Homo sapiens: one gene and its partners. The protein of the gene in region 1 purifies or fractionates together with the protein of each later gene. This does not show direct contact. Each region holds a gene or a part of one and is shown in the gene's direction. Other genes may lie near its edges.

The links.
Region 2: the proteins of DUSP16 (region 1) and MLF1 purify together in Homo sapiens (affinity purification with mass spectrometry; 2 studies listed by BioGRID and IntAct, with this or other methods). This does not show direct contact.
Region 3: the proteins of DUSP16 (region 1) and KCTD20 purify together in Homo sapiens (affinity purification with mass spectrometry; 2 studies listed by BioGRID and IntAct, with this or other methods). This does not show direct contact.

What each region holds. Positions count from the first base shown.
Region 1 is NC_000012.12:12,552,843-12,559,870, reverse strand, and holds part of DUSP16 (dual specificity protein phosphatase 16), read left to right. Parts: intron 1-5,211; exon of another isoform or gene 5,212-5,335; intron 5,336-6,435; exon of another isoform or gene 6,436-6,562; intron 6,563-7,028. UniProt on the Homo sapiens protein: Dual specificity protein phosphatase involved in the inactivation of MAP kinases. Dephosphorylates MAPK10 bound to ARRB2.
Region 2 is NC_000003.12:158,574,186-158,581,213, forward strand, and holds part of MLF1 (myeloid leukemia factor 1), read left to right. Parts: intron 1-7,028. UniProt on the Homo sapiens protein: Involved in lineage commitment of primary hemopoietic progenitors by restricting erythroid formation and enhancing myeloid formation.
Region 3 is NC_000006.12:36,438,754-36,446,019, forward strand, and holds the start of KCTD20 (BTB/POZ domain-containing protein KCTD20), read left to right. Parts: upstream 1-4,246; 5' UTR 4,247-4,358; intron 4,359-4,664; exon of another isoform or gene 4,665-4,777; intron 4,778-7,266. Other genes in the region: PXT1 (peroxisomal testis-specific protein 1), read right to left, coding at 3,782-3,787. UniProt on the Homo sapiens protein: Promotes the phosphorylation of AKT family members.

The sequences.
Region 1 (7,028 bases):
AGATGGGAGGGGGGAAGAGTAGGTGTGAGAAGGTTGCAGAGTTTAGGTAGGGATCAGAATAAGAGGCAGGATTTATGTGTTAGTGTGTTTTGATGCTATTTTCTGTAAATCCCTGGACTGGGAATTTAATTTCATACAGTGTTTAGCATATGGGATTAATATATTGATGAAGCAGACTTATATAGCTGTCCAGTATTAAATTTTTTCAATTTTCAGCTAATCCTAAAAATCCTACTAAATATAATTTGCTAGAATTACCAGTGTAATAATTTATCCTAGAACTCCCAAGTTTTCCTAGACAAAAATAATTTTCTACTTCGTGTTACCTGAACTAAAAATTTCACTGGACATTCAGTGTTTTTAAAATGCATTAAGTTCTCAAGCAAAAGGTACTTTAATTTGAAGAAGTAAATTAATATAGGGTGAACTGATTTGGATCAGAATCCCAAGAAAATAAGGAGATAACTTAGAGGAAATAAAACAGATTTTATGACAGATTTCAACAGATGAAAGAAACTAGTTAAAAAGATTTCACAGGAAAAACCATAGTTGGTGCTTGATTGGCTTTAAAAGAAATTTACTGATCATTTAAAACGGAGATATTCACCATCATAAAAGAAAATCCGAATGTTGGCTTAAACAAAAACATAATTAGGAAAATAAGTCTTGCCCAAAGCTACATATGATAAATTCCAAAGCCAGATGTCAATTTTTTTTTTCTGATTTTCTTGTGTTGTAGACAATCTGTTATTTGTATGCATTTCATTATCCTTGATGATCAAGGGTTGGCTGTGTGAAGAGAGGTTCATAAAGGTTGGCCGAATTTAAAGAAGCAGGCTCAGGCTTTAAGAAGAGCTGGTTCTTCTACACAAATGGATTGAGACAGGGAGTTAGAATTTTAATCAAATAAATAACTGGAGGAAACAGTGGCTCAAAAGAAGGATGTAAGACAGATTACCTTGGACAGGTACAAAGAAATAATAAAAGCTTGCCAGGAGTATGATCAGTAAGGAAGGGAACAGAATACATCTTGCCATGAAAGGAAAGAGGAATAAGTGGAAAAATGCCCTCTGATACCTCAGCAACAAGAGAGAGGAATGAAACTTCACGCCCTTCTTGACTGGGGTTAGAAACATCATTATAGGTATTGCCACAAAGTCACAAGATTTTTTTATTACATTAAAAAATGTAGGCCAGGCGTGGTGGCTCATTCCTATAATCCCAGCACTTTAAGAGGCTAAGGCAGGAGGATCACTTGAGCTCAGGTGTTGAGAACAGCCCTGGCAACAAAGACCTTGTTTCCACAGAAAATCAAAAAATTAGCTAGGTATGGTAGTAGTACGCAGCTGTGGTGCCGGCTACTTTGGAGGCTGAAGTGGGAGGATCTCTTGAGCCTGGGAGGTCAAGGCTGCAGTGAGCTATGATGGCACTGCTGCGCTCCAGCTTGGGCAACAGAGCAAGACAGTGTATCAAAAAAAAAAAAACATATAATCTTGAGGGATAGTGATTGATAGGGTAAATTATGAGCATTACTTATATGAGAATGTAAAATTTAAAATTGTCAGAAATAAAAAGAGGGATTCGCTGTAATATCATGGCCTATTTTGAGTTATTTGAAAGGGAGGGATACATTATAAACTGAAATTATTAACTGAATTTCTGGATTAACTACTGATAGGAATCAAGCAAAACATTTGTTAGCAGTATGCTGTTTACATGTGCTGAGATGGATTCCAAAAGTTGGGGACACTGGCCCATGTTATGGAGAACAGGATTATAAGAATTTTAAGGGAGATACATACATATGCAAAGATAATTACCAGACAGCTGGCAAGTGCCAAATTCAGGTACAAAAGAGAAAGAGGGCTCAGGGAGGTAATCTTCATAGAGATAATAGAATTTGACCCTGGCCTTAAAGATTGGTTAACATGTGTATGGAGAGAGGGAAGTGGGGGAGGCGAAAGGCGGAAGGTATTCACCCATCTCATTCAGCAAATTTATGCTGATCCTCTACCAAGTGCTAGACCCTGGCCATACAGTGGAAAATAAGAGAAAGTTTTTGCCCTTACGTAACTTATATTCTAGTGGGAGAAGACAGGACAATAAACAAAGACAGTAAACAAGTAAACAGTACATTAAAAAAGTGATGTTAAATAGTGGTCGGTAGTAAAGGTAATGATCAGGGTCGATAAATTGCACTTATTCTGTGAATCACTTGCTTTGCCTATGATAGTCTAATGAACAGTCTTCATGTTATAACTTTTTAATATTCATGTGCAGTCCAAATGAATTTGAATAAAAATCTACACATTAACCAGTTTTTAAAAAAAGAAATGGGAATTAAAGAAAAAGAAACCTATGTGACTTTTTTTTAGGTCAAAGCATGGAAACTTAGATTTTTTTTTTTTTTTTTTTGAGACGGAGTCTTGCTCTGTCGCCAGGCTGGAGTGCAGTGGCGCCATCTCGGCTTTCTGCAGCCTCCGCCTCCCGGGTTCAAGCGATTCCCCTTCCTCAGCCTCCCGAGTAGCTGGGACTACAGGCGTGTGCCACCGCACCCAGCTAATTTTTTTTTGTATTTTAGTAGAGACGGGGTTTCACCACGTTGGCCAGGATGGTCTCGATCTCCTGACCTCGTGTTCCACCCGCCTTGGCCTCCCAAAGTGCTGGGATTACAGGTGTGAGCCACCACACCCGGCCAGAAACTTTAAATTTTTTTTTTAATGCCTTGTTAATGTATCCACAGTTCTTTTGCTGCCATTTGCTAAGAATCTCATGTTTTTTTACAATGAGATTAATGTCATTGTTTACTGTTCAGTTAGCTTTTTCACGTATTGGGCTATATTCTTAGGTTAGACTCTCTGTTAGGAACAATAATCACCATAGTGTCATAAAGTGAAGCTAAATTCCAAAGATTGTTTTGTATGGGAACATACAAAAGAAAAGATGTACAGACAATAAACTGTTAGGCTTAATTACCAATAGGTAAAATAGGGTAAGGGATGACACCTGTTCAACTCTTGTCCCTATGGCATATTGTTCCTGTATTACTACAAAAAGTAAAAACCTGAAGCAAAGATGTTCCAAAATGGGGAAGTCTTGATCTTTCCTGTAGTTATTGGACTGCCAGGTTTGTTTTGTTATTGTTTAGAAGATGTCCTTCATAGTGGTCAACTAAAAACTGATATTATCAGGAGCTATTTCATGTTTTGGGGCACATTTTGTTCTTCTGAAGCATTCTTTAAGAAATATGTGCCCTTCACTCTTTTTGCAGTTTTTAATTTTTTTTTTTTTAATTAAAGATGGGGTCTGTCTCTGTCACACAGGCTGAAGTGCAATAGAGCAATCATAGCTCACTGTAGTCTCAAACTCCTGGGCTCAAGCAGTCCTCCTGCCTCAGCCTCCCAAGTAGCTGAGACCACAGGTGGTGCATGCCACCACACCCGGCTAATTATTATTATTTATTTTTATTATTTTTATAGAGATGGGGGTCTCACTTTGTTGCCCAGGCTGGTCTTAAACTCCTGGCTTCAAGCAGTCTTCCTGCCTTAGTCTCCCAAAGTGCTAGGATTACAGGCACAAGCCACTGTGACCAGCAAAACTTTTTTATAGGTGAAATTGAGGTAAAGGATTTTAAAAAGTGTTGATATTAAGTGTGTCTATAGAACCAAATCCCTCAAGAATTATTCTGTATGCACCTAACCAATTTTCATCTACAAAATACTTGAGATAAACCTATGGGAAACAATTTTAATACAAGGTAGGAAATTCTTTAGTGCTCTCTTGATTTCCTCCTAAACTAAATGCTTAATTTATTTAATTTTTATTTTTTTGAGACATGGTCTTACTCTGTCGCCCAAGCTGGAGTGCAGTGGTGTCATCACAGCTCACTACATCCTTGACTTCCTCGGTTCAAGGGATTCTCCCACCTCAGCCTCCCAAATAGCTAGGACTATAGGCATGTGCAACTATACCTAGCTAATTTTTTATTTTGTGTAGAGACAGGGTCTTGCTATGTTGCCCAGCTAGTCTTGAACTCCTGGGCTCAATCAATCCTCCCACCTCGGCGTCCCAAAGCATTGGGATTACAGGTGTGAGCCACCATGCTTGGCCTTAATTTAGAAAAGAATTACAGCTATAAATGCTGTGGGTCTGTGGTATGTGTAATAAAAGTTAATCTGACTTGTACTCCTCAAAAATATTTGGGAAAGACAGAAGAATTCAGGTTTGTTTTAATGTCTATGTATGTTGGGGTGGGGCAAATTGCGTTTATAGAAAAAAGATGTAATGGTATGGCAAGATAATTAATATTTAATATATCCATTATTTCTCTTAAAATAAATGGGGAAAGATGTGTAGAGAAGTATATGCTACTTACAGTGTGCGTTGTACTAGTTTTTAAATACACAGTTTATATCCCAGGATAGTAGAGTAGGCTTTTGACAAATGTTTGTCAAATAATTTCAGTCAGTTCTTACACCTGTTGCTTTTTATAGCCGTTCCATTATATCTCTAGCTTAGAGCACTGTGTTTTGAGCTTTGAGTTGCAGTTTGCAAGGGGTTGACTTATAGTCTTGGGCATGGACTCTTATTTGAGCCATGTGCTCACTCTAGAACGGGGTCTCTGACCTCACCTCCAGCTTTGACCCTGTGGCTGACCTGACTTCTTCTTTTCCAAAATGATGGGTGGTTGTTTCCAGTCACCTTTTTCGGCTCACAGTGTAACAGCTCCTTCTCTTCCCGAGCAGCTGAGCTGTGTGCTCTTTGGATCACTTCTCAGAATACTAAGGTATATGTATTGCCATGCTGGCTTATTTTGTAGTGGGTTTATTTGTTGTTGTTGCTTGGTTTTTGTTGTTATTGTTTGGTTGGTGGAAAAGAAAATTCCTCGAGAAGATAGTTCTTGACTTGTTTTGTAAACTGTACATGGTATATGAAGCATAGTATTATTTCCTCTTCCTTCGTAGCTTTAGTTAAACATCTTGGGTTGACTTGAGAAAGAATTGGTAAGAATGATATTTTGATAATACCCACCAACCAAAAACTAACAAAGACTTTTTTTTTTTAATTGAGACAGTTGGGAAACTTGAAAATGGAATATATATTAGGTGATATTTAATAGTTACAACCATAATGTTTTCAGCTATAATAGTCATATTGTGGTTATGTTAAAATATTTTCATGTGTTAAAAATACATATGGATGTACTTACAGGCAGAATAAAATGATGCGAAATGTTCATTTTAAAAAACTTCAGGATGGGCACAAACACACAGAAGTGGGAAATGAATAAAAGAGTATTGATAAATTTTTGAAAATTGTTGAAGCTGAGTAATGGGTAAGTTGGAGTTTGTTATTTTTTTTACATTTGTGTATATTTGGAAATGTCCCTAATAATGATTTAAAATATATAACCAATTATAACTGTAGGGTAAGAAATTAAATGCAATAAAATTGTGTTGTTGGGTTGGGTATGAGGGTTCATTCTTATGATCCAGTACTTTGGGAGGCTGAGGTGGGAGGATCGCTTGAGGTCAGGAGTTTGAGACCAGCTTAGGTAGCATGGTGAGACTCTGTCTCTGCAAAATAAAATAAAGTAAAATTATATGCTTGGACATTTGAGCTAATTAGCTAATCAAAAGTCTGCACTTGGCTTTTTTTTTTTTTTTTTTTTTTTGAGACCCAGTTTCACTCTGTCACCCAGGTTGGAGTGCAGTGGCGCAGTCTCAGCTCACTGCAATCTCTGCCTCCTGGGTTCAAGCAATTCTCCTGCCTCAGCCTCCCAAGTAGCTGGGATTACAGGCGTGCACCACCACACCAGCTAATTTTTGTATTTTTAGTAGAGATGTGGTTTCACCAGGGTGGCCAGGCTGGTCTCAAACTCCTGACTTCAAGTGATCTGCTTGTCTTGGCCTCTCAAAGTGCTAGGATTATAGGTGTAATCCACTGCTCCTGGCCTGCACTTGACATTTTCTATAAGTTCTGTTTTTAGTAATAAAATTTTAAGAATAAGGAAAATTTCATAGACACATCGTAAGAGGCCAGGCATGGTGGCTCATGCCTGTAATCCCAGCACTTGGGGAGGTGGGCGGATCACTTGAGGTCAGGAGTAGACCAGCCTGGGCAACATGGTGAAACCTTGTCGCCACAAAAAATACAAAAAATTGGCTGGGTGTGATGGTGCACACCTGTAGTCCCAGCCACTCGTGGGGCTCAGGTAGGAGGATCACCTGAGCCTGGCAGGTCAAGGCTGCAGTAAGCCATGTTAGTGCCAGTGCACTCCAGCCTGGGCAACAGAGTGAGACCCTGTTTCAAAAACAAAGAAACAAAACATCATAAGAAGTGTTTAAAATGCTTAACTTTGAGATCTTGTAATAATAGTGTACCTTGTAGTTTATAAATTGCTTTTACATATTTTGTCTCTTTTATCCTTGGAAGACATGAGTTACCCATTTTACAGATGAGGAAACTAAGGCCTTAGAGAGATGAAGTAATTTATTGAAATCCTAAAGCAAGTAAGAAGTGGTGCTAGAATTGGAGCCAAGATCTTCTGATTCATATTCAGGTGTCCATTCTCTTGTATACATATACTTAAAAGTGCTATTTTTTTGTGGTACTATAAACTAATGGTTTTCAAACATTTTGGTCTCAGGACACATTTATACTCTTAAAAATTTCTGAGGACCCCAAAAATCTTTTGTTTATATAGACTATGTCTGTCCATACTTAACATTAGAAATTAAAACTGAAAAATGTTTAAAATATTTATTTATTTAAAAAATAACAAACATTAGGCCAGGCATGGTGGCTCATGCCTGTAATCCCAACACTTTGGGAGGCTGAGGTCAGTGGATCTCATGAAGTCAGGAGTTCGAGACCAGCTTGACCAACATGGTAAAACCCCGTCTCTACTAAAAATACAAAAATTAGCCAGGTGTGGTGGTGGGCGCCTGTAATCCCAGCTACTTGGGAGGCTGAGGCACGAGAATCGCTTGAACCCGGGAGGCAGAGGTTGCAGTGAGCCGAGATCC
Region 2 (7,028 bases), on another chromosome or scaffold:
GGGAAATGAAATGGTTAATATAGAAAAATAAAATGATTAAAATTTTTTTCTGAAGATTATTTATTAAGGCATACATGAACTCAGGCAAATTTATTATGCCATTTTAGTTAACGTGTTTAGGAGCTGTTGGGATATGGACAGTGTTATTTTAACAGGTTTAAATTTTTGTATTATTGTGATTCTCTCTTTTGAAAGCCAGAGGCGAGGCTTGGTGGCTCACGCTTGTAATTCCAGCACTTTGGGAGGCCGAGGTGGGTGGATCACCAGAGGTCAGGAGTTGGAGACCAGCCTGACCAACATGGTGAAACCCCATCTGTACTAAAAAAAAAAAAAAAAAAAAAATACAAAATTAGCCAGGCATGGTGACACACACCTATACTCCCAACTACTTGGGAGGCTGAGACAGGAGAATCACTTGAACCCAGGAGGTGGAGGTTGCAGTGAGCCGAGATTGCGCCATTGCACTCCAACCTGGGCAACAAGAGTGAAACACTGTCTCAAAAAAAAAAAAAAAAAAGAATATTTAGCCAGAGAATATTATTTTGTAAAATCCATAATTTTATTATTTTGTATTACATAAGCTCTGGCTTTCAAGAGAATCACAGTACTACAAATCCATAGATTATTGAGGTGTTGAAGTCATTCATATGTAAATATGACATCATACAATTGGTAACAGCTAAGAAGATTATGATAGACAATTTTCGAGTTGTATTATATCCTTGATTATACCAAAAGTTGTTTTATATCCTTCATTGTTAAGGATTCCATCCTTAACTGTGAATGTGTAATGAGTATAATATGTTCTTTAAAATGTCTAGCAGAAGTGTAATTTAAACTCTTGAGTGATTCTGAGCAGAGGCAATGAATTCAAGAGTCAGGGTCAGAAATAGTAACAGACTACAAATAGTAAGCATACAGAAGAACTCTTCCTCTGTGCTTAGGGTGAAAAGGACCATCAGTTACTCTTTCAGTTATCACTATCTATAGCCTTTTTCAAATGCAAGGAGCCATATCATAAAAATTGAAGGTAAAATTGTTGCAGTTAACTTTTTTTAAGCCTAATCTCCTTTATTCATCACAAAGCTTTTGCATAGACCTTTTAAATATACAAAATAGTGGCCAGAACTCTGCTTACAGACTACCATCTTTCATTACCACCATATTACAGTTAATTTTATAAAATTGATTCACACTTAACAATTTCTTTTCTCCACAATGAATTATATTTAACACACTTTTGGGGATAAGGGAGAAAAAGAATATGAGTTTATGTTTATTTCGGGTAATCTATTTGACCCACCCGTTTTACCTCAACCCCCAAACAAAATGAGTATCCATTTCTTAAGTTAAACATAAAGAATTCATAAAGGTGACAAACTCCTTAATGAATCATCCACTGACCTTAGGAACATAGAGATGTGAAACACATAGCTCATGCCCACTCTCTTTTATATAAATATTATCCCTGTTGCTAACATTGTGGTGGGTGGGTCATAGAGTCAGTAAATGTTGTTTAATGGTGAGTTGGTGTCCTTTATTCTCTTTCTTGTAGTCAATCTGGTATTTAGTTGATTGCTGAAAGTAATTATCATTTGCATTCAACAAATAACATTGTTGATACTGGTATTTTCTAATTAGAACATTACGATTTTCTAAATAGTCCATTAGAGTTGCTTATATTGTTCACAATCAAGGTTATTCAATATAAGCAAACGCTACTGATTTACTAATTATTCAAAAATGGACAAAAATGTATACTTCTTTGATATAAAAATAGAATTACTAGATACTACGATGCTGATAAGGTGCTGTGGTTAAATTGTTAATTGCTTAAAATATTTAAGTAAAAAGTAATTAAAATCTGTAGTTTTGAATTCAAATATATTCAGTTTCAATGTTTACCTTATTATAACAGTGCATCTTAAATGTTTCTTCAGAAAAGTAAAAGGAAATGTTAAAAGTTATATTTTAAAATTTGGTGTTTTATTACATACTTGGGATTTTTAAACTTTGGTATCTCATTATGTCTCAGGGCTGAAGTTATTTCATTGAAAATTTACATTACAGTATATTCAGATATACCTTCTTAAACAATATCTGTTACTTGATTAAAAACACAAAGGTTAAAAGCTAGCACTTCCTGGCATGCAGTTCTCTCAAGAATACTATCTTTCTCTCACATCTGTATTTGCTAACAATATGCATATTGTTAAGTACATATGTATAGACAAGAGGATTTTGAGGTTAAATGGTTTTGGCATCCTGTACCCTAAAAAACATCGATTATGTAGTATGAAAGTTTATAAATATTTAGTACGACCCAGAATTTTCTATTTGATACGAAACAGGAACTGTGAATCTTCTGAGCTACAAAAATGTAATTCTGATCGAGCAAGTCTACAAAGAATAATAACTATGTTACCACTTACCAGCTATTGGAGATAGAAAGCTCAGAAGCAGGCTGGCAAACCTGTCAACCTTAATTTTTTTTTTTTTTTTTTTGAGACGGAGTCTGGCACTGTTGCCCAGGCTGGAGTGCAGTGGTGTGATCTCGCCTCACTGCAACCTCTGCCTCCCAGGTTCAAGTGATTCTCCTGCCTCAGCCTCCTGAGTAGCTGGGATTACAGGCGCACACCACCACACCCGGCTGATTTTTTGTATTTTTAGTAGATACCGGGTTTCACTATGTTGGCCAAACTGGTCTCGAACTCCTGATCTCGTGATATGCTGGCCTCAGCCTCCTAAAGTGCTGGGATACAGGCATGAGCCACCGCACCCAGCCAACCTTAATTTTTAATCATAAATTATTGTTGTCTCTTCTTTAAGCCTCTCAGCTCTCCATATGAGCATCATATATCTGATGACCAGTATTTGGTTAAAGTACTGCATATATTCACAGGATGTTACTTCTTCTATCTCCTTATATGTATAATCTCTATTTTAAAAATTTTTACAAATTTGTATTTATTTTATACTTGGAAGTAGTTGGATTTATTAAAGGACATTGCTTTGTCCTATCCACTGATGGAGTTCAAAGTGAATGTATTCTATGTACAAGATGTGGGTTAACTTTTTTATTGATGGAAAACATTCTCATTGAAGGAAATAAAACCACCTTGTTAAGCTTTTGGAAACAGTATTCAAGGTTACTACTTAAATACTTGTTTAGACGTACAGTCTGAGGTAGAGTCTCTGCCAAATTGTCATAGCTTGGCTCTAGTTAATATTCTGCCACATATACCTCTCATTCTAAACAGTTGATAAAAGTAGCTTGAGAATACTCAGCTAAAATTTAAGTTACTTATTTTCAAGGTCCCACTTTATTCTAAGACCCTGAATACCTACTGTGAAATTACCTAGTATAATTGTTCTTAGGAATATTTTAATATATAAATTTCTTATAAATGAACTTTGCAAATTATAAGATCATATTTGAAAGAATGAGACACTGTAAGCCTTGTGCTGAAAGGATTTCTAAGGTATACTATTCATTTGGGGCATTCTTTGGTTCATGAGGTAAACACCACTGAATTAGGAGCCCAGGAACACAGCATGACTAGGACATGGTTGCTGGGTCAAAAATGCCATACAGTAGCATGTACCCACAAGATAATTCCTACTTCTGCCAATTAATATTGTAAATATCCATGAAAAAGGAGTGAACTATTTATAGAATATCAGGGGAGCATAATCATTTCCACAATTTTTTTGATATCAAAGGCTTTTGCCACACCAACACTTTGTACTTCAAGACAATGGAAAAATAGAATTGCTTAATAAAAATGTAATTCATTCTTTAAATATTTCTTCAGTTTCTACTATAGGCCGAACCCTGTGGGTTCTCTTTTAAATTTTTAGATGTCTTGGTTCCTGCCCTCAAGATCCTTCTTTGAATGTTACATGCATTATTTCTAGTATCAAAACATGGATCTTCTGGTCTATTTTCCTTATAGACCAGTCTACCTCATTGAAACTAGGGAACATTTCTTTATGATCAAGAGAACCATAACCATCTGCTGGCTAAGCTTTTGCCACTACCATGTATAATGGAAGGGAGGAATTTCCCTTAATGAGTGAGCCTGCCATGTCAGTTATCTGAGAACCTTATGTAATAGGTAATGCTCTTTGCTTAGAAGCACAAGTATCTATATTCTTATATAGATGAAAAAGAAGTGTAACTTAGGCAAAATAAGTGTGTGTGTGTGTGTGTGTGTACATATGTATTTGAGAGAGTTTTAAAAACAATAAATTATTCTAAAGGGAGACATTACCAGCCCTTAAACACATGTATGTACGTATGTACATACATACATACAAACACACACACACACACACACACACGTACACACTATGTTGAAATCATTCCCAAGTGACCTGGAATCAATCTAAGAGTTAAGACATAAACACTTTTGAAGGGGAAGTAGGCAACAATTTATTTTTCCTGCCTTGTGATATATGCTGAAGGTAAATAATATAGAATAGAAAAAGTACGTTTGAGACCAAAGTTTATTCAGTTTGGTTGTGGTTTGTGTGAGCAATTCTAAGAGAGGAGGTATATAGTCATCAGTGAGTAAAAGTACATTTTTCTTGACCTAAATGAAAATACATCCTCATGGAAAATCTGAAAAGTATAGAAAGTTTGGTAGCAGAAATAATACAACCCATTATTTTGATGTATTTTGTTTCAGATGTCCACATGTGGATTTTTATTTTCCAAAATTCGGACCACACTTTATGGTTAATTATTCAATGCTTTTCTGCAACATATACCATGAACGTTTTCCTGGTCTTTAGATATTCACTAAAGCATGACTTTAGAGTCTGCAAAATATTGCACCCTATGAACATACAAAGCATATTTCTCACATAAATCTTTAACAACATTTTCAAATTATTACCTTAGACTCTTTGTGTACATGAAATGACTAGTTTGTATAGCATGACCTTTTTAAAACCTCCTATTTCCAATTTGTTTTCCTAGAAGAATGAAATTTTATTTTCAAAAGAGAACATTATGAATGGGCTAAAATTTTTCATTTGAGAAAAAAAGCCTAGGTTAATTTTAAAAATATTAAAACAACTGTGTGCTACCATAGAATTTTTTTAGTTTTGATAAAAGTGAATTCAAACTTGGACAAGAGAAACATTAAAGCCTTATCTCCAAGCAGCTGCCTTTCTGGGTAGACATGAATTAAACTCACTAGAAGTTTCAGCCAGATTTCTTCCTGAATGGTTCAGACAGTTGCAAACACCAGACTATAGGCTCGCTTTTGTTTAGTGCATCTTCCAACAGGCAGTCATTTGTTCATGTCACTCAGAAAGATAAAATTTTTAGCATTTGCTGAACATACACATATTCAAATAAACATTTAAATATTCCCCTACTTCTATATAAAGAAAGAAAAACCCAGGCAAATTTTAAATGAGCCATATTTTGTTGATTAATTTTTAGCCCAATTATAATGCAATGAGAAAAATTAATTTTACTAAATTTTGATTCTGTAGAAAAGTAATAGCTGTTTAGCACTCCCTTATTCAAAGAACAAATTTAGTATTTCTTGAAATACTTTTCTTCATTGTAGTCAAATCACATCTACATATCTAAAGGAAAAGTTGACTGGTTTTCCTAAGTAAGTATATATTAATAGGAACAAGCATTTTAGTCTCCATACTTTAACCATACTCTAAGCTGTAAATGTCCAGTGAGTTTGGAGCTGTAAGCAAAAGGACCTCCTTTTGAAATGCCTGTTTTAAAACATCAAATGGTATGAAATCCTTTAACCTCATGCAGTTACATTTATTATGAAATATTTCAAACATACTGCAAAGGTATAACGAATACTTTGGAATAATCTGGTTTTTGAGGTAGGAGTTAGAAAATGTTCCATGGGTAACTCATTTGTGCATTTTAGAACTACTTGAAACTCTGTACCTTCAAATAAAAAGTAGAGTGGGGTGGAAGTAGGGAGAGCATTAGGAAAAATGGCTAATGCATACTGGACTTAATACCTAGGTGATGGGTTGATACGTGTAGCAAACCACCATGGCACATGTTCACCTATGTAACAAACCTGCACATCCTGCACATGTACCCCGGAACTTAAAAAAAAAAAAGAAAGATTTTGTGAGGTGGAAAAAAAAAGTAGAGTGATACGTATGCCAAATTTTGAATTACTAATTTTAAAGTAATTTTGTTCTTCATAATCTGATTTTGGAAAACAAAAAACGACTCCCTTTCTGCCTTCTAGTGTGCTAAAACATGAGCTGCTCCGTGTGTACTATTGATCTGTACACACTGAGATTTTAAATTAAAATTAATTTATAAATTGTCACAACTTCTTTATAGTGCTTGTTGCATATAATTTTGCTAGAATAGTGATTCTCAAACTTTTAACAGGTAGGAAATCTAGGAATGGTAGTCTTAAATTTCCTTTGCCCCTCAAGACAAAAACTCATACTAAAAATCCTACAAGAATCTGGTATGTGGCTGGGCATGGTTGCTCACACCTGTAATCCCAGCACTTTGGGATGCTGAAACGGGCAGAGCCCAGGAGCTCGAGACCAGCCTGAGCAACATGGCAAAATCCTGTCTCTACCAGAAAAAAAAAAAAAAAAATTATCCAGGCATGGTAGTGCACGCCTATAGTCCCAGCTAAGGAGGCTGAGGTGGGAGGATCAATTGAGCTTAGGAGGTCAAAGCTGCAGTGAGCCATGAACATGCCACATTGCACTCCAGCTGACAGAATGAAACTCTGTCTCAAAATAATAATATGCCATGTAAGAAGCTTAAGGTTACCACTTCACGCTAATAACAAATTAAAAACTGAACAACCTGAGAAAACAACTTTTCTTGTATATAGCAGAGAATCGAGGTCACAGGGCAAATCTCTGCCCCCATAATTGGAGATAGGCAGATAGAGAGAATCACAACTTAACTGGTGCAGAAACCTCTTCAGGAACCAGTGCGAGGGTAGTAGGAAAACCTGACCTGTAGTTGACAAATTACTGGAGACTCAGAGTGGACA
Region 3 (7,266 bases), on another chromosome or scaffold:
AGTTCAGACTTACTTTTCCAAGTATGTTGAGCCCTCTTTATTTTCTGTATTTTCATGCTTGAGTTAATAAATTGCAAAGTTTCCCTCTTTTGTTTGCTTTGTTTTCCTTTATATACCATTTGTTGGAGGTTCTCTGTTTTTAAAGAGAGGGGGATGAAAAGTAAATTATCCCCTTGGGCTTGCGAAATAAAGTTTACCTATCTACTAAATAAATATCTCATAGCTTTCTGTGGTGGCTCAGTGGGTTATTGGAACTTTTTTTTTTTTGAGACGGAGTCTCGGTATCGCCCAGGTTGGAGCAGTGGTGCGATCCTGGCTCACTGCAACCTCCGCCTCCTGGGTTCAAGCAATTCTCCTGCCTCAGCCTCTCAAGTAGCTGGGATTACAGGCGCACCACCGCGCCCAGCTAATTTTTTGTATTTTTAGTAGAGACGGGGTTTCACCATGTTGGACAGGCTGGTCTCAAACTCCCGACCTCAGGTGATCCACCCGCCTTGGCCTCCCAAAGTACTGGGATTACAGGCGTCCGGCCTATTTTCTTTTCCAAATGCAGTTTATTTAAAACTCATATAAGGTGGCTGGGAGTGGTGGCTCACGCCTGTAATCCCAGCACTTTGGGAGGCGGAGGCGGGTGGATCATCTGAGGTCAGGAGTTGGAGAAGAGCCTGGCCAACCTGGTGAAACCCCATCTCTACTAAAAATAAAAAAAATTAGCTGGGCATAATGGCGCATGCCTGTAATCCCAGTTACTTGGGAGGCTGAGGTAGGATAATCGCTTGAATCCGGGAGGTGGAGGTAGCAGTGAACAGAGATCACGCCATTGCACTCAAGCCTGGGCGACAGAGGGAGACTCCATCTCAAAACAACAACAACAACACTCATATAAGGCTGAAAAAAAAAAAAAAAAAACAACTAAGCATTCTCAGTATTAGGTTCAAGAATGAGACTTGTGTGTTCATAAACAAGAGGTCATGTGAGCTGCCAGAGCCAGTACATGGGATACGAAGGCCAGAGCCTGTTTGTAAACCATTAACAGGAATAACAAGAGATAAACATTATCAGTTTACACCCAGCCTCCGCCGAAACCCAGCGTAACACATTTCCACATTTCCTGACTCCCCTATCCTGACTCCCCACAGGATTCTGAGACCAGCCTGGGCAATATAGTGAGACTTCCTCTCTACAAATTAAAAAATTAGCTTGGGGTGGTGGCCTGCACCTGTAGTCCTAGCTACTCAGGAGGCTGAGGTGGGAGGATCACTTGAGCCCAGGAGGTTGAGGTTGCAGTGAGCCATGATCCCACCACTGCACTCCAGCCTGAGTGACAGGGCAAGACTCTGTCTCAGAAAACAAAAGAAAACGAACATTTAGCAAATTTAATTATTCGAGAGAGACAGTTCAAAATCTAGGGATTTTTGGTTTGTTTTTATATTTACTACATAAGCTTAGTCGGTAGAAATGAGGATTAGCTTTTTGTATGACAATTTACAATAGCTATTATTTAAAAAATATTTTTATTCTTAAGAGTCAACCTTGACCGGGCGTGGTGGCTTGCGCCTGTAATCCCAGCACTTTGGGATGCCGAGGCGGGTGGATCACGAGGTCAGGAGATCGAGACCATCTTGGCTAACATGGTGAAACCCCATCTCTACTAAAAATACAAAAAATTAGCCGGGCACAGTGGCGGGCGCCTGTAGTCCCAGCTACTCGAGAGGCTGAGGCAGGAGAATGGCGTGAACCTGGGAGGGGGATTAAGTCCAGAAGATCGAGGCTGCAGTGAGTGGTGATCACCCAGCCTGAGCAACAAAGGGAGACACTGTCTCAAAAAAAAAAAAAGAAGAAGGTTTTGGTTTCAGATACAAATAAATATCAGAGACTCGGGGTCTTGAGATACCTACATTAAATTAGAAATAAAATGATAAAAACCAGCAAACACCTATGCTTTCTGTGAATATACATTTCTCATATCCCGTCTCCTTGATGTCTGCCCAAAAAAGGTACCCAGTCTGATATGCTGTTCATTATATGAAATTTTAGCCAAAAGTTGAACCATTAACTATTAAAAGTCATGTTATCACTTATTTATTTTGGATGATGGATAACGGGTGTTTATTATATCTTTCTGTATGCTTTAATTTCCAAAATGAAAGTGTTTAAAAAATAATAATAAGACTCGGTAGTTAGCCTGATTCTCCAAACTTCAGGCCAGATTTTTGTATACCACAAATCTGCAGCCAGTGCAGTGGCTCATGCCTGTAATCCCCAAACTTAGGGAGGCAGAAGCAGGAGGATAGCTTGAGCCTAGGAGTTCAAGACCTGCCTGGGCAACAGAATAAGAACTCCATTCTCCACAAAAAGAAAAAAAAAAAAAAAAAGAAAGACAATATACAAATCTACGGGAAGGAATCTTTCCAGAAAGGAAGAATTTGTTTCAAGAACTGTTTTGCAGGAATATCAGAAGGTTTTTTATTTTTCTTTGACTCAAAGGCTGTAACACTGTACTTTATAAAAATGGAAATAAAGGCATTAGTTTGAACAATCCTCTATGCTGCTACTGTTGTAAAGTTTGGAGCCTATAACTCACTCAAATTGGTTTATAGCCATGTGTTTACTAAATCTTTTTTCATATTCCTTTTCTCCAGGCATACAGGAATTTATATCTCACAGCCTTCTTAGAGTCAGTCAGGTTGAGCCTGGTGACTAGTTCAGGACAGTGAAACGTCAGCAGAAGTGAAAAGGCCACTCACTTCTGGCAGAGGCAAAGGAGAGCCCTTACAGGATTCTCCAATCTAGCTCTTCTGCCAGCCCGGAAGTGCTGGGAGGGCAGAGCCACTGACGCAAGCAGCAGGGAAGCTGAGTCACCATGGGGACGTGAGACTGACTTACAGATGACGAGTGCAGCCTCACAGCCTAGTCCATGTTGAGATAAACACAATACAGTCCTGCATACTTTATAGTCATAAACGAGGGAGAATAGAAATGGAAAATGACCCTCTAGGCCTCTAAGACCAAATTATAATGAAAAAATTTATGTCTTCAGTTTTGAAAATTAAATTTTTTGACCCTGATAAAACAAATTTGCTATACAAGTATCCGTTAACCGTGTGAAACCTACTGAGTCAAACTATTTTCTTACATTCCTTCCACTTCAACACCAATTCTAATCCAATTCCAAATTAGTTTTCAGAGAGTCTCTTGTAAGGAAAAGGAGAATCGACTTCGAATTTTAAAATTTGTGCTATTATTAGTTTATAGAGCTTTCAACAATTTACAAATAGTTTGCATAATCAGTATATTTAATTAGTATATATAGACATATATATATATATTTGAGAGGGAACTTCACTGCAACCTCCCAGTTGCCTCCTGGGTTCAAGTGATTCTCCTGCCTCAGCCTCCCAAACAGCTAGGGTTATAGGCGCCCACCACCACGCCCGGCTAATTTTTGTATTTTTAGCAGAGACAGGGTTTCATCATGTTGGCCAGGCTGGTCTGGAATGCCCAACCTCAGGTGATCTGCCCGCCTCGGCCTCCCAAAGTGCAAGGATTACAGGCGTGAGCCACCAAGCCCGGCCTAGTGTAATTTTTAAAAGTACAAAAGCCACTAGAAACCGTGACAATAAGAACTTCCTTTTGGGTTTTCCAGCATTTGGTTCATAGGACATGGACCATATATAGATGTTTTTTGAATGCTGAAATCTTTTACTCATAACACAGTTTTCCCAGTAACTTGCTTCCGGTTGATTTAAAATTTGTAATACACCTTTGTAATAGCAGGTACCTTCATGAAACTCAGTATTTGAGAAAAATGTGGAGTTTTTCCCCCTTTCTTTTGGCCAGAATGTATATCCAGGGTAGTGACTTTCGAGCAAATGCGTTTAAGCAACTCCAGTATTCTTACTACGCTACCTCCAACCTCGCTCCACGCATGGGGAGATCAGGGTTCCACATTTTCGGGTAAGCATTAGCCGTCCTGGCGCTGCACGAGCGTATTCTACAATTCCGAAAACTACTAACTTTTCCGTCTGCAACCTTTAATAATTGAGAGGGTATGCGCAACTCAGAAAAGTGCGCCCGCTGAGGTTGGGTGCAGAGTGGACTGGAGGAAAGGCGACACCCATTTACGGTGCGGCCCCGGACGGGGTCCCCAGACACGGCCTTCCCGGCGTGCCACGCGCGGAGGGGACTCTTAACGTGAAGCGCTGGGTGACTCAGCCGCGTGGCCGCGCGGTCCGGGGCGGGGGGCGCGCGCCGCTGCGGCACAGCCGGTCCCGGCTGCGGCTTCTGGCTGCGCGGCCTGCGCGCGCCTCCCGGGCGGATTCCAGCCCCGAGCGGGACAGCGCGGCGGGGAGCGACGAGTAAGTGGCGGCGCGGTACGGTTTCGGGCGCGAAGACCGGGCAGGGAGAGTGTGGCGGCGGGCGTGGCCCGAGTCTTCCCTTTGTGGCCGAGGGGGCGTCTCCTCCGGACGCGGCGGCGGTTCGGACCCCCGAGTCGAAAGGCCGCGGGGCTGAGCTGGGCGCGAGGAACCTGTGGGCAGCGGCTTGATGGGCTCCTGTTTCCGCGCGGAGGGCAGAGTCTGGTGATCCTGGGGAGGGAGGCGACGCTGCGCCCAGGTGGTGGGCACAGCTGAAGTGTAACTTGACTGCTTGACTGCTTTTTGCAGGCCTCGGGTGGTTCATCCCGCCGGAGAGGAATGGCGAGAACCTGGAGTGTTGACTGGCAAAACATTTGCAGACGCGGTTTTTCTGGCAATTAATTGGCTCCATTAAAAATTAGGTAGTTGGTGGGGACTTCCTCCTGAACTCTGGAGCCGAGCGCATTTTGCTCGGTCTTTTCAGCCCTGTTTCCGCGTCTTCCTTCCCTGCCACCCGCAAATTGCCAGCTTTCATCCGTGGCTCTGAGTGCAAAAGAGCTGGGGAAAGCCTTAACCAGCAATTTTCTTTTAAATAAAACTTTGCTTTTTATAGCAGTGTCTTCAGGTTTAGAAGCCCAGTTCTGCACTATGAGAAAACTCTTCTATTTTGGAGTTTGTGATTCTTTCTGAAAATTCCTCAGTTGAAGAGATTTATTTTTAAATAAGAATCTAGTGAACAAACTAACATGATAAACAAGGCTGTGAAGGAACTGTTTAACCAGCTTATGAAAATATGTCCCAGAGTCCTTAGTTTTGTTCCTGTTCGCTGTGCGAGAAGTTGAGGTAGTTTTTTAATGGTCTTCAAAACAAAGTGTTGTAGTAGTGTCTGTCGGATGTGATGAATCCAGAGTCAGAGGACTTCCGCTCAAGGCCCCCACCTGAAACCCCAATTCCTAGGCCATAGTTCTGAAACAGAAGATTGTTCCTTAGTAATAAGGTTGCAGTACCCTAGCACCTCTTCCATAAATTTGATTCTAGAGATTTGTGATGGGTCCCTGAGTCTGGGATTTAAGCAAGCACCTGCACTCTTGGTCTGTTACTGATGATCCAGGGACCGACCACACGTTGACAGACACCACCTTTAGGCTGGGCTGGGAATTTTAAAAACTGCCCAACAGCCTTAACCCTTTGTCGATGTTTTCCTCCCCTGCCCTAAACCAGTCGTAGGACAAGAAGCCCTGACTCTCCAGAAGCCAATATGAGAAAAGATAGTGCTTTTTTTGACCCTGACACGGGGTAGGAAATGATTTTCATGCATATTCCGATATTGCTCTGATGGTTTAGAGATAGCCCATTAATCTTTTCCTTCTGAGGGCTGCTTCTAGTATCATCAGAGCTTAATGCCATTAGGCCAAATCTCCTCCGCCCAGCTCACTCAAGTCTCCCCATGGAACCAGGGCAGCCAATGCCATATAATTCCCATGGCCTTGACTGTCATATTATCTGGTATGTAGCAGTACTAGTAGCATTATGAGGGCTTTCAGTTCAGCTGGACGTTAATTTAGTCATCAAATACCTGCGTAATGCCTATTTTCCTCAAAGCACTGTAGTAGGCTGTTTTATCAACAGCATTGCAATATAGACACATATTTCTGGCACAGAGTTGCATTCCTCCTTTGAGGCAGAAATGAGGGCTGGATAAACTCCACTGCTGCCAAAAGGTTCTCTTTATTCATCCACAATTTGTTCCTTCCTGTTATGCCAGAAATACACGTACTATTCCAATAATCTCGTTTTCCTTAAGAAGTTAAGAAATACATTGTATTAGGCCTAACTGTAGTAGTTAGGTCAGTCTTAAATTCTGTAACAGAAGCCGGGCGTGGTGGCTCATGCCTGTAATCCCAGCAATTTGGGAAGCCGAGGCAGATGGATCACCTGAGGTCAGGAGTTTCAGACCAGCCTGGCCAACCTGGTGAAACCCTGTCTCTACTAAAAATACAAAAATAAGCCAGGCATGGTGGTGGGCACCTGTAATCCCAGCTACACGGGAGGCTGAGGCCGGAGAATCACTTGAATCCGGGAGGCAGAGGTTGCAGTGAGCCGAGATCGCGCCATTGTACTCCAGCCTGGGCAACAGAGTGAGACTCCGTCTCAAAAAAAAAAAAAAAAAAAAATCTGTAACAGAGACATCTAGTAACTTTGGTAAGGACAATAATACACGCATTTTTATATTTATTATTCCCCCTTCAAATAGATGTGTAGAGATGAGGTTAGAATTAGGCCATGTGTTTCTGTGACTTTTTTCCTCTCTTTGGTGTCTGATTTATCTTATTGAATCTTTTTCTGTTGATTCATAAAATGTCATGTCTTTCCTTCTGTAGCCCTGAGCTTCCTGATTGTTGTGTCTTCCTCTGGCCTTCAATCTGATCTTCCTGCCCCTCTTTGGCTAAGTGGAGTGAAATATTGAGGGGAATTGTTAGAATACCACATGATTTTTAGTTGGAAGATCCAGAGTCTTAGATATATGAGGCTTAGAGATATAAAGGAGCTTATTACAAATTTATCAAATGCAATCCTCTCAGATAAAGAATCTGAGAGATGAGATTGCAGAGTGAGGACTTCTGGCTCCTAGCCCAGTGTTCTTCCCACCAAATTAAATGCTTCAAAAGTAGAAAAGGTCCAGAGAAATTATAAGTAGATGGAGAAAAATGGAGAGACTTTCATATGACTACAAAAGCAATATTATCTTATCTGGAAAAATGGAGATTGAAGGAGGATATGATGTAACCATATAAATCATAAAAAGTGGGAGTACTAATAATAAGGAACTCTTTGAAGCTTGAAATAAGTAGTGAAAGGACAAATAAGAGCAAGAGATAGCTATCTTGTAAAGCCCCAGAAATGTTATGAA